Linked DNA regions of Homo sapiens: regions 1 and 3 are each linked to region 2. The links come from fine-mapping of genetic effects on gene expression. A gene starts in region 2. Each other region holds a variant in brackets. All regions are shown on one strand. Distances are between the middles of the regions. Region 1 has its middle 48 kb from the start of MIR4522. Region 2 holds the start of WSB1 (WD repeat and SOCS box containing 1). Region 3 overlaps KSR1 (kinase suppressor of ras 1).

The links.
Region 1: its variant is fine-mapped to the expression of WSB1 in whole blood (TOPMed, PIP above 0.99).
Region 3: its variant is fine-mapped to the expression of WSB1 in whole blood (INTERVAL, PIP 0.98).

What each region holds. Positions count from the first base shown.
Region 1 is chr17:27,243,500-27,247,730 of GRCh38, forward strand. No RefSeq gene overlaps it. Among named protein-coding and RNA genes, the nearest start is that of MIR4522, 48 kb to the right of the region's middle. The variant A/C (reference allele first, on the strand shown) is at 1,936.
Region 2 is chr17:27,291,684-27,295,914 of GRCh38, forward strand. WSB1 (WD repeat and SOCS box containing 1) reads left to right here and starts at 2,431. Exons shown (of 9, transcript NM_015626.10): 1 at 2,431-2,752. The coding sequence starts at 2,713. It overlaps MIR4522 (microRNA 4522), which reads right to left and starts at 2,313; the gene lies at 2,227-2,313. RefSeq lists enhancers at 2,160-2,209, 2,580-2,639, 2,650-2,709 and a silencer at 2,250-2,459.
Region 3 is chr17:27,456,945-27,461,175 of GRCh38, forward strand. All of the region lies in intron 1 of KSR1 (kinase suppressor of ras 1), which reads left to right. Among named protein-coding and RNA genes, the nearest start is that of KSR1, 2.6 kb to the left of the region's middle. RefSeq lists a silencer at 314-363 and an enhancer at 3,184-3,887. The variant C/G (reference allele first, on the strand shown) is at 1,973.

The DNA.
Region 1 (4,231 bases), 48 kb before region 2:
AAAATGTATTTAAGTCATGGACCCTGCACCTGAGAAACTCACAACTTCTTGGGAAGGTTAAGTCAGCCCTACTCCATGAGTTAGAGTATTAAATGGCATGTGGGAACCTGAATGAGGTCACTCACTCAAGGCCACTCACAGCCACTCAGAGCCAGGATTCAAGCCCCAAAGAGATTGAATGGGCTTGTTCTATAAACCACCCACCTGCCATAAGTAAAAGGGACACCTTTCATAAGTGGTATCAAGACAGAATTCCTAACCCCCAGTCCCCAGGTATAGTTCGAATGCACATTATTGTAATCCCTCTATTGCAAAGTCCTGGTTCTTGGACTTTTAAAGCTGGGACATAGCTGAGTCTGGGGCTGGAAACCAGGACTGGCAGGTGCAATAAAAGTAATAGTCCATCAAGCTTTGTTGCTTGAACTATGGTTACCATAAGTAATTACAGGAAAAATAAACAAAAACACTCCATGAAGCTGAAGTAGTAAAATGAGACTCCAGCTTCGAGAACAGACACGGTATTAAAATTGGGGCATCTTTGGGTCTGGCATCTCCACCCAGGCCATTTGACATGTGAGAAAATCTCGAGAGGTGAAGTGACTTGCCTGAGGTCACTGGGTTGATTTTGACAAAATGAAGATCAATATGCCTGTTTCCTATTCTGAGTTAGTCACTGTCCACAGCACCGCCTTCCCCACCACCAAGGGGAAGAGAGGCTGCAGGACAAGGTGAGCGCACCCATGTCCTTCCTGAGATGAGGCCTGTGCACTCTTGAAGTATTCTCTGACTTCAAGGGAGAACCAGTGGGAACGTCAGGCTTGGAAGACCAAGTCAGGGACTCAATTACGGCCTCACTGTCATTGTTTCTAGCTACAAACTATAAACACCGACTGCCTGAATGGAGAAGAAAATGTATCAGAAGGTAAACAGGCAGCTCACAGAACCACCACAAGACCCTAAAACTAGGTTTAAAGCTGCACAGTCAGGGACAACACCCCCCGACGGAACCCAAACCCTATGTGCCGAGAAACCTCGATGTGTCCCCAGCCGGCTCAGCGGCCCCTGCTGTGCCAGGAATTCAGATGTGCTGCACTGCCGACCATCCACAGTGGACATTCTCGGGAGTCCTGGCCTCCCTCAGAACCCCCACGCTCCCCTAAGGTCTGGCACAGGCCCCTCTGGTTGGCCAGCCCTCGTCACATGCGCTGGCTGTAGTTGCAAAAGGGAGGCTGAGAAAGGGGAAACGGAACATTTCCGTTTCTCTAGTAGAAGGTGAGGACCTCCTCCCGATCCAATCATAAAGTAGGAGTCCCCCAAACATGAGAAAGGAGTTCAAATGCCCAGTGGCTCCAAAAAGAAGATAAATGTCCTCCACCTGTTGGAAGTGGGGCATAAAGAAGATGGATGAGTCCTAGAGGAGGAAGGGAGAGGAGACCCTCCACAGAGCAGGGGCAGCTGAGTCTGTTAAGTGAAATTTGACTTAGTGGTGCAGGAACATGACGCATGAGGCATAACTCCACTATCCCAATAGCACAGGGCTAGGGTTGCCAGATGAAAGTCACATGCTTGGGGAATTGCAACACAGGAAGAGAAATTGAGCAATGAAGAGAAATTGAGAAATGAAGTCTCCGTACATTAAAGAGGAAGGGAAGGCTAATCTCTTCCTACCCTGGTTAAGAAAGAATTTGAATGGAGAAGAGGAGGAAAGGAGGCTGATTTGCATTAAGCACCTACTATTTTTGAGCACCAGGCCCTGAAATGTGGCTGGCGTGATCTCCTTTAATGTGGAGAAACAGAAACAGTACAATCTTGATAATTTGGGGATTTGGGAAAAGACTCCTTTCCCGTATGTTTCTTCCGTTAGTGTTACAGCCTCCTGGCCTCTCCCCTTCCTGCAAGCCCCTCCTGGAAAGAGGAGGTGATTGTGAGCTGCAG[A/C]GGGCAGTGTAAGCCTGGCTCTGCCTGCCTCCTGCTTTCCCTTGGGTGGGGCCTCCCATCGGCAGCTGGCGAGCACAGCTGTCATGCAGCCAGCCCTGCAGTGAGGCCCGCATGTCTGAGTCCTGCCTATGACCAGGCAGGTGGGTCTAATTCTGGGTATGACATTAGGATGTTGGTTGTTGCCTGGTTCATCTAAGCCACACCCTCAATCCGGGCCTTTATCAGCAATGAGGGTGATACTGCAATCCATACCTATCTTACTCCTTTATGTCTCAATAGTTTAGAACTCACACTGAGGAAAAGGGATGCTCCTTACCAATCCCCCTTCTCAAATCTCACCAGTAATTTCTGATAGGATTAGCACAGCATTTGACAAATATTAAAGGATTCAATTTTTAATCATCCTAGGAAGCAGGGCTCTTAACTTGAGATTTGGGGATGGACTTCAGAGCATGGGACATTCATTTATTCATTATTTTTCTTTTCTTTTCTTTTCTTTTTTGAGACAGGGTCTTGCTCTGTTGCCCAGTCTGGAGTGCAGCAATGCAATGACAGCTCACTGCAGTGTTGACCTCTTGGGCTAAATTGATCCTCCCACCTCAGCCTCCTGAGTAGCTGGGACCACAGACATGCCACCATACTCACCCCCTCTACCATAAAGTCTGAGGGAAAATTACTTTCTCTCCAAGACATTCTTGCAGCTGAAAATGTTACATAACATAGTTGGCCAATGAAGTATAAGCCAAAGAATTCTGGGAGCTTCTGGAAAAATTTTGCTTCCTTGATTGGAGCTGTGATTCTTTTTTTTTTTTTTTTTTTTTTTTTTTTGAGACAGAGTTTTGCTCTATTGCCCAGGCTGCAGCGTCAGCTCACTGCAACCTCTGCCTCCCAGGTTCAAGGTATTCTCCCACCTCAGCCTCCTGAGTAGCTGGGATTACAGGTGCCCACCACCATACCCAGCTAATTTTTTGTATTTTTAGTAGAGACAATCTTTCACCATGTTGGCCAGGCTGGTCTCAAACTGCTGACCTCAGGTGATCCACCCACCTCAGCCTCCCAAAGTGCTGGGACCAGCCACTGTGCCTGGCCAATGTCATTAATTTCTTATGTGTCCTTTCAGAGATACTTTATTTGGACACAAGCAATTACAAATACAGTTGACCCTCTGTATCCACAGCCTCTGTATCTGCAAGTTCTGTGTTCATGGATTCACTCAATTGCAGATCAAAACATATTGAAAAAAACAATAAAAATAGTAGTACAATAGTAAAAAATACAAATACAAATAAATAATACAAATAAAAATAAAAATAGTAAAAAATAATACAAATAAAAATATCATAAGTAATCTAGAAATGATTTAAAGTATACAGTAGGATGTGCAAATACTATGCCATTTTATATAAGGGACTTGAGCATCTTTAGATACTGGTATCTGCAGGGGTCCTGGAACTAATGCCCTGTGAATATGGAGGGATGATGACTGTATATGTATCTTTTGCCTCCTTTTAGACAAATAGTAGAATACTATACACACTGTTCTGCATCTTGCTTTTTTTCACTTAAAAACACATCTTGGTGACAATTCCATATCAGTACTTAAAGCATGCCAAACTCTTTTTAGCATCAGCATACTATTCCACTGTGTGACTGGAGCATAATTAATTTAACCAATTCCCTACCATGGGATGTATATGTTATTTGGAATCTTTTTTAAAGGATAGAATCCAGCTCAAGAACTTCTAGCCATGCAAGTGACTCAAAGCTTTAATGCAGAGTAACTTTAGGCAAGTTGCTTAACCTCTCTGAGGTTAAGTGTTTCTTATCTTCCTTCCCACCACAATGGCTCCCCAGAGCCCATCACTGCCCTGGGGAAGTGCTTTTATATTTCCAGCCCCACACAGTAGCATCCACCTTCATCTGGGGAGTGGGGGTCGAGGAGGCAGGAATAGGAGGTTTCAACCAGAGGACAGGTCCCCAGTGTCTTGGCCAAGGGAGCCTGGTGGGGGGCTCTCTCTGGCTGCTTCTCACGCCCTTATGTTGTCACCCTCTGAAATATGCTGTTTGCCTTCCCTGACGCTGACCTAGTTGGCAAGGACTGCAGAACAATGTCAGGCCCAGGGCCTGGTGCATCCTGGGGATGTCACCGCAGAGCAAACATGAGTTTGCTGGCTGGGTGTCAACAGGAAGATACATTAAGGGCAAATAGGAGCGAGATCCCTGGCATGGAAACAAGAAGAAGGCTGGCTGCTGGCTCTGTGTGGGAGTTTGTTTATTTATTCTATAAAACAGCTTT
Region 2 (4,231 bases):
TTGAGACCAGCCTGGCCAACATGGTGAAATCCCGTCTCTACTAAAAATACAAAAATCAGCCAGCCATGGTGGCGTGTGCCTGTAATCCCAGCTACTCGGAAGGCTGAGGTAGGAGAATCACCTGAACCCAGGAGGCAAAGGTTGCAGTGAGCCGAGATCGTGCCACTGCACTCCAGCCTGGGCGACAGAGTGAGACTCCATCTCAGGGAGAAAAAAAAAAAGAAAAAGTCATCACAATAATTCACTGTTGGACACTCAAAAACTGGTATTTCCCATGAATTTGTATGGTATAGTACAAGTAACAGGGATAATAGCAGTTGGTTAAAAGAATTAACTCAGACTGATATGAATGTTGGTACATGAGCTACAAGACTGCATTAAAGTTTTTCTTTTGTTCTACTCTAAAAATTCAGCAACTAGGCCCAGTGCCTGATACAGAGTGAGTCCTCAAGATATCGTTGACTGAAGCTAACAAAGTGATTTATTGATTTATTTATTTATTGAGACAGAGTTTCACTCTTGTCACCCAGGCTAGAGTGCAGTGGTGCAACCTCAGCTCACTGCAACCTCTGCCTCCCGGTTTCAAGCAATTCTCCTGCCTTAGCCTCCAGAGTAGCTGGGACTTCGCCACTACGCCTGGCTAATTTTTTGTATTTTTAGTAGAGATGGGGGTTTCACCATGTTGGCCAGGCTGGTCTCGAACTCCTGACACCCGCCTCAGCCTCCCAAAGCGCTGAGATTACAGGCGTGAGCCACCGCCCCCAGCCTAACAAAGTGATTTTTTTTTAAAGACGAGGGGCAGGCAGGGCGCAGTAGCTTAACGCCTCTAATCCTAGCACTTTGAGAGGCCGAGGTGGGCAGATCACAAGGTCAGGAGTTCAAGACCAGCCTGGCCAATATCGTGAAACCCCCTCCCTACTAAAAGGATGAAAAAAATTAGCTGGGCGTGGTGGCAGCCACCTGTAGTCCCAGCTACTCGGGAGGCTGAGGCAGGAGAATCGCCTGAACCCGGGAGGCAGAGGTTGCAGTGAGCCGAGTTGGCGCCACTGCACTCTGCTCTGGGAGACAGAGCAAGACTCCGTCTCAAAAAAAAAAATAAATAAATAACCAAAAAAAAAAAAAAGGAGGGGCGATGTTTTATTAAACATTTCGCTATTTGAAGAATTAATACACTCATGCAAAGAAAAGATGAAGTAAACATGCCCTACAGTGTTATCATTTGAGATCTCTTAAAAGCGGCTATGCAGCCGGGCGTGGTGGCTCACGTTGTAATCCCAGCACTTTGGGAGGCTGAGGCGGGCGGATCACTCGAGGCCAGGAGTTCGAGACTAGCCTGGCCAACAGGGTGAAACGCCCTCTGTACTAAAAATACAAAAATTACCCGGGCTTGGTGTCACATGCCTGTACAAATCCCAGCTACTGGGGAGGCTGAGGCAGGAGAATTGCCTGAACCCGGGAAACGGAGGTTGCAGTGAGCCAAGATCACGCCATTGCACCCCAGCCTGGGAGAAGCGAGACTCCGTCTCAAAAAAAAAAAAAAAAAAAAAAAAAAAAGCGGCTATGCAACACTCTACTCTGTCCCATGAATATCTGCCACATATTTGAATTCCCAGTCTTATACGCCCCAGGCCTTTGCAATGTTTAGGGTCCACACGAGAAGCCATTAAAATGCAAATACGTCATCTGTGACCGGGAACCAAGCTGGCATCTAGCAGATACTGACACATTTATCAGTCTGATGTGTGGACAACTAGGTGCCTCCCAGAGGCCTTCAGGTAAGGTGGAGGAAGGGCCAATTCTGAGCTGACACAGTGGGATCCATCTTGGCCAGGACAGTGGGATCCATCTTGGCCAGGACAAAGGCAGTCCAGAGAGGCCCCGCGGCGCGGTGCGGCGCGATCACGCCCGAGTCTCCTTCTCGTTCCCCTCGGCCCTTCCTAAAACCTGCTGGCTCAGGTCTGAACAATCGCAGCTGGACAGGTGGTGCACAACGATGTTAATTTTCATCCTGTCTTTTTCATCAGTGCATCCTTCAGTTCCCTATTACTTGTGGGCTGGGGAGTTGGCCAAATTGAGTGAAAACCTGAAATGTCTTTTTGTTCTTTTGGTTCAGCCAGTTTAAGTTCCATGCAATCTTTAAGCTAGGAGGCTAATAATAATACAATTCTCTGCTTGCCCTTTTCAAAGCCACTTCAGCTTATAAACTCCATATTAGACCATCCAGGCCCAGAAGACGCCACCGGCCTACAGGCAGAGTCAGCGGAACCAGCCTGGGCTGGATCTCCCCCTGCGAGGCCCCCAGGCAACGCCCGCGCCGGGCCGGGGAGATCACGTCCCGTGCGTCGGGAGGCGGGGGCCTCGGGCTGTGACGTCACGTGGCCGCGCCCCTGCCGCCCAGATATCTCCGGCGCCGCCCGCCATTTTGACTCCAGTGTCTCGTTTGCAGTCGGCGCTTTAGGGGAACTGTCTTCCTCCGCAGGCGCGAGGCTGGGTACAGGGTCTATTGTCTGTGGTTGACTCCGTACTTTGGTCTGAGGCCTTCGGGAGCTTTCCCGAGGCAGTTAGCAGAAGCCGCAGCGGCCGCCCCCGCCCGTCTCCTCTGTCCCTGGGCCCGGGAGGGACCAACTTGGCGTCACGCCCCTCAGCGGTCGCCACTCTCTTCTCTGTTGTTGGGTCCGCATCGTATTCCCGGAATCAGACGGTGCCCCATAGATGGCCAGCTTTCCCCCGAGGGTCAACGAGAAAGAGATCGGTGAGGATTGGGACCGTGGGTGGGCGCATGAGGGCCGAGGAGAGGCAGGGACTCCCCGGAGGAGGTTTGGGAGGAAGCGACTCCAAGTCTGAGGGAAGAGCTCCAGTGCGCCAGGGCCAGCCCACTAGCGAGGAGGAGGAAGCCGCCTCGGTGGGAGTTGGCTGAGGGGTAAACGGCACCGACGTGGATGCAGCACCTACTGTGCTCCCTCGCGGTTGCTGTGTGGCTGGGGCGGGCAAGGACCCCGGTTTCTTCGTCGGAGGTCCGCGCAGGGCTCTTGTCCTGGGAGTTCTTGGCTCAGGGCATGACTGTCGAGTGGACAGGGAAGGGCCACTCAGGGACTTTAGGTTTACAATGGGGAAAAGTAAACTTGTGGGTTGTAAGCGGTAATGAAAGGAGGGGGTCCTCGTGTGTACCAACCACTCTTAGATAGAAATGAGATGGAAGAGGTCCCAACAGCCTGGCAAAAGCAATACAGTATTTTTAAAATGGTGTGGCCTTAAGAAACGCAGCGGTTCGGGGGAGGAGACTTTTAGAATTATCTTTCAAACACTTAAGGGAGGAGCTGGGTGGTTGGGTGGAGTGACAGAAGGAAAGCTTTTGTGCGGAAGAGGAAACTCTGGAAAAGGCTTTTCTGGCTTAGTGTCTAGCCCTGGTCGGCTTAGTAAAGGGCAATTAGTGTTGAAGGTTGTGCGTCCACACCTACTTAGTGGCTCAGTGGAAAGCACGTCGCATTATTTAAATCCTCTTTTAAAGTAAAATAACTGGAACAACGTTTGACGGTGTTGGGGGGTGCTGTACATTGGCTGATAACACTTAGCAAACACTGATCTTACTGTGTGAAGTAATAATTAGCTGCGGCCGCTGAGCAGAGAGCATTTACATTTTCCTACTCTTGAAGTGAATGTGTGCCTTTACTAAGTACAAGGAGGAGTTATTTCTAGAGAAGGGAAGAGGCTGAAGTAGCCAAAACGCGCACTATTTTGTATGTGGGTGAATTTTTATATCTAGAAACAGCTGTTTTAGAATTCTGGACTTTTGTTGTCTTAGGGATGATTGATTAGGAAGGGACTTTAACCCTGGTTTTAATAACCATTTTTAAAGATACAAACACAGAAAAAAAAGGGAAAAAATTGTAGCAGAGTTCACACAGAAAAAAGAAAAAAAAAGATGCAAAGAACACAGAATTTGTGTCCAGTTATTATTTTAACTGTATTTTAAGACTAGAAAGTATGTCGCGAAGTGGGACAAAGAACTCAAAAGTTCTTATCAGTCCAGTGGGTTTTTCTTTTACTTTAGTACACCATAATGTTATAGACGAGTGATCTGCCTTTTTTTTAAATCTGTATTTTACTTCATCCTGATAAACCATTTTGAAAACTTTGCGGTCCTGTTTTCTCTCTCTCTTTTTTTTTTTTGAGATGGAGTTTTTGCTCTTGTTGCCCAGGCTGGAGTGCAATGGCACGATCTCGGCTCACT
Region 3 (4,231 bases), 170 kb after region 2:
CTGGCCGAGTTGCATCCTTGAGCCCGCGTCGCCCCCCTTGGAGGCTTCCCCTCCCTCCTGCACTCGCTGATGCGGCAGCCGGAGGACCCGGGACCAGCCCTCATCTTGGGCAGGATTTGTGGGGCGGGTGCGTCGTGGGAACTGGGATGGAGGCTCGAGGGGCCCGTGCGGGGTGGGCTGCGCGCGGACATCCCCTTTCCCCCCTTCTCCGCCCCCACCCCATTTCCAGTTTGCGGGGCCGCAGGACTCGTTGTCCCACCGAGTCACAAGCTGGACTTTTCCCCGTGTGACTGAGCCGAGCACCCGTGGGCCAGGGTGACGGAGGAGGTTCCCCTGAAGCGTGATCGCAGGCCTGCCGTCCCCTGTTCCCCTCACGCCCCAGACGCCGTCCTGTCCCTTCCTTTCCTCTCCTCTCAGGTCTTGTCTGCCGCCTTTTCAAAAAGTGTTGCTGAAACTGCATTTTTGTTATTCAGGCGTTTGGTGCTTTCCTTTCACGTTGCCACGGAGGCTCGCTGCTTAAAATGTATTAATAATTACCCGCTGACTCCCCCTGCTTCCCCCCAAAGATTGGATTTAGGCTTAGGAAGGATTATGCTGGGAAGCAAGCCTTTGGTGGGAAGATGAAACTGTTTAAAGGGTTCTGATGGAGACAGTCTGGAGTGTAAAGAAGAAATAAGATATGCGGGCCTTCCTCTCTCAAATTATAGCTGGGGAAGTATCTGAAGGATTTGGAAAAACCAGCCCGAGGGTTGTTGGGGCACCCTGTCCATACACAAATGAGGGCAACTAGTGGATTCTGAATGTGATTTTGGCCAGGGACGGGGCGGTGAAACGTCAGACCAGTTAATAGCTGCCCCGTCTTGAAGAAGGAACCTCTCACCATCTTGCCCTGCCACATCTGGCCTCCTGCAGGTCTGGGGATGTTTTGTTTTATTAGATCCTCAATTTCTCCTCCCCCAAACCCTCCCCCCGCCCCTTATTGCTAATTGCCTCTGCCAGCTGTCATAAGGCCCTCTGTGATCGCGGTAATTATTACAAGACCAATCCTTCCTCCAGGCATGCCACAAAGCCGAATCCTTGTTTGATTCCAAATGCTCGGGGGTGACTCTCCCTCAGTTTTATTTTCTTAAAAGCTATAAAACCACAGGACATTGGAAGAATACAGTCAGTGCTGGGTATTATTATTTTTTATTACAGTTGGCTAAAGCTGTACTGACCAAGGCTTTGCTTAAAAAACAAACAAAACCCCCTACAACTGGCCTTTCTGCATGCATGCTGCAGTTTTCCAAGTATTGAGAGAAACTGATTTTTTGAACACAGCTGAGTGTGTTTGCTCAGCAAAGTTCAGTTTTTAAGCTGACAACAATAGGGGGCCTGTGAGGCTCAGTTCCGGGAGGAGGGGTCGCTGTCTGGCAGAGTGTGCGTGGTTGGACTTCGGTGTTGCTGGGCTTGGAGAATGCTCTCTGTGTTGGCCTCTGTGGGATTGTCCCCACGTTGCTCTGAAGTGCTCCTGGCTTCCAGAGTGTGTATATAGGAGAACCACTTGCTGTGCATTCTCTGGAATGGCCTTTTGTCCTACCCTAACTTCCGGAGTCCCTCATTTTGATGGCAGTGTGGCGTTCATGACACCCCAGAGCATCCAGCTATTTAAGTGTTGGAGCTGGTTTATTCAGTGGCTTCCCTCCTGAGTGTTTGTTTAGACGATCATCCCTGGCAGCAGAGAACCCATCCAAAGGCCCACAGGGGATCTGCAGCTCCCTGTTCTTCCCACCGTGATGTGGATTCGGGTTCACTCCACTTCCTGAAAAGGCAGGGCCTGGGTTGTTTTGGGGGATGGGAATTTAGACCCCTGGAGTGAGTTCCATGGGGCTGCCACCAGCTAGTTTAGATGAGTCACTTCATCCCGGAGGCCTCAGCCTCCTCACCTGCAAAACAAGGAGGCTGGAGTGGATCTCTGAGGGCTCTGGAAGCT[C/G]GAAATTCTCTAGGTTAGAGAAGGAGACTTGGTTGGGTGAAATCAAATGTTTGTGATTGTTTTTATACTACCCTGGTTTAAGAATAACCCTCTTTAAGAATGGTTCTAAAATCCAGATTTACTGAACCCATAACATAGGGGTTAAGTTTATTAGAAGAATCTTTGCCATAGGAGCAGCGTGGTGAATAGGAAGCCCCATGGCTTTCATACTGGGCCTGGGTTCTGTCTGTGTGACCTTAGGCAAGTCCCATGACTTCTGAATCTCAAGCTCTCCTGTCTGTAAAATAGGAACGAGACTGCTCACACCTGCAGCATTTTGTCTGTCAGTCCGTGCTGATACTACGAAAAGAGTCTGCCTGGCAGCTGCCCCTAGTGAGGGTCCAGTAGCATTTATGGCACAGGCCACCACTAGGGAAACTTAACCCCTACTGGACCCTTGCTAGGGAAACTTAACCCCCTACTTTATGGGTTCAGTAAATCTGGATTTTAGGGAAAGGTACTTCTGCAGCTGCCTCTCATTTCATACAGGTGGGTGACACAAGCCAGGAAACAATCTCAGCAAGCTGGGTGGGACCGTCCACCGCCAGCAGCATGTGTTGGGGCCAGGCAGGCAAGTGGCAGTGTCCACTCCAGCGTTCTTTCCTGTTCTGTGGGCTCCCCACACACCAGGCCGTGGCCCCAGAGACTGTGCTTGCAACACTGGATTCCTGGCTTTTGAAGAAGGATCTGACCTGGAGGGCTTGGCCTGTGCAACTGCATCGGACTTATCTAGAATCTGAGGAGCCCCAGCTCACTCTGGCCTTCATTAAATAAACACTCAGTGGGAGAAGCAGCACGTGAAATGTCCGTGGAGGTCCCTGACCAGGGATGGGCTGCTGCTGCCTGAAATTGGGTTGTGATGGGGTGTAGTGGGTCAGCGTGTCTGGTTGTCCGGGGATAGCTTTTCTCTGTGTGGTGGTCCAGTTTGGATGGAAAAGGGTAGAAGGAGCTGAGACTTAACGTTTGCTGCCTGTGTGCCTAGCAGCGTGCCTGACTCTTCTCAAACTCACACACGTTCCTGGAGATCAGCAGTTTTCATCATACACATTTTCCCTCTCTAAATATAAAGGGAGGGAGGCACAATTTGAAACCAGGGTATTAATCTGTAAACAGAAGTTGTGAGGCTACTTCATCCTGGCAGGAGCTGGTGTTCTGTCTCCGCTAGACCCTCCTAGGGGTCTGAAAACTCCACCGAGGCAAACGGGAATGTTCTTATGCCCCAGTGTACTCACAGAGGGACACTTGGCCTGCCTAATAGCTGGGCCTGCAACCTATGCCAGTAATAATTACCTTCATTCCTTTGAATCTGCCCAGCGCTGGGGAGACAAGGGTGTGTAGAAGCAGACACATGTTGCCTCATGGAGATTTATGTTCCAGGGACATTGTGACTTGCCCTTTCCTGCCAGCCTACTAGTACTTTCCAGAGACAGGCTCTGCCATGCTGAGTCTCCCCACCTTGTGTTCTTGTGGAGAAAAATCCCTCCTAAGCAAGCTGGCGTGGAGAAAGGGGCTGAAGGACTTTGACCATCAGGCTTTGCTGGGGGAGGTGATGTTGGCAACTGTGGTAGGTGCAGAGTCAGGCTGTGCTGGGAGGCGATGTTGGGAACTGTGGTAGGTACAGTCTCTGCCCTTGGGCTGCTTTCCTGAGCAGTTGCCCTGGAGCCGCAGGGGGTCAGAGGGGAGGCCCTCCTGCCATCTGGAAGGTCAGAGAGGCCTGGCCCTCACACAGCTCTGCCGTGGCAGAGGTCAGAGTCCCACCGTGTGGGGGACCTGAGCTCTCCCTATGCCTCCCAGGAGCATCTGATGATGGAACTGCTGGGAGAGGGGAGGGGTGGCATTCCTGCAGATTGGGTCCTTAGGGTGTGTTGAGGCACGTTCCCTGGACAGACCTTTAGTTACTGTTGATGTGCTTACCTGGCTGGCAGCCACCTAGCAAGGGCTCTGAAGTAGGTGGGCTGTTCTCCCAGTCTTTGGGGTCTAGGGACAGTTCTAGTCTAGTGAAGGAGCCAGGCAGGGCACAGTAATGACTTTAGTAGCACAGCTTGCAGGACCCTGCATTGGGAACCCCACTGAACCCTTGGCCCATCCAACCTCCTGGTTTTTTTGTTTTGTTTTGTTTTTTGTTTTTGTTTTTGTTTTTCTTTTAGTCAGAGTCCCACTCTGTCGCCCAGGCTGGAGTACAGTGGCATGATCTCGGATCACTGCAATCTCAGCCTCCCA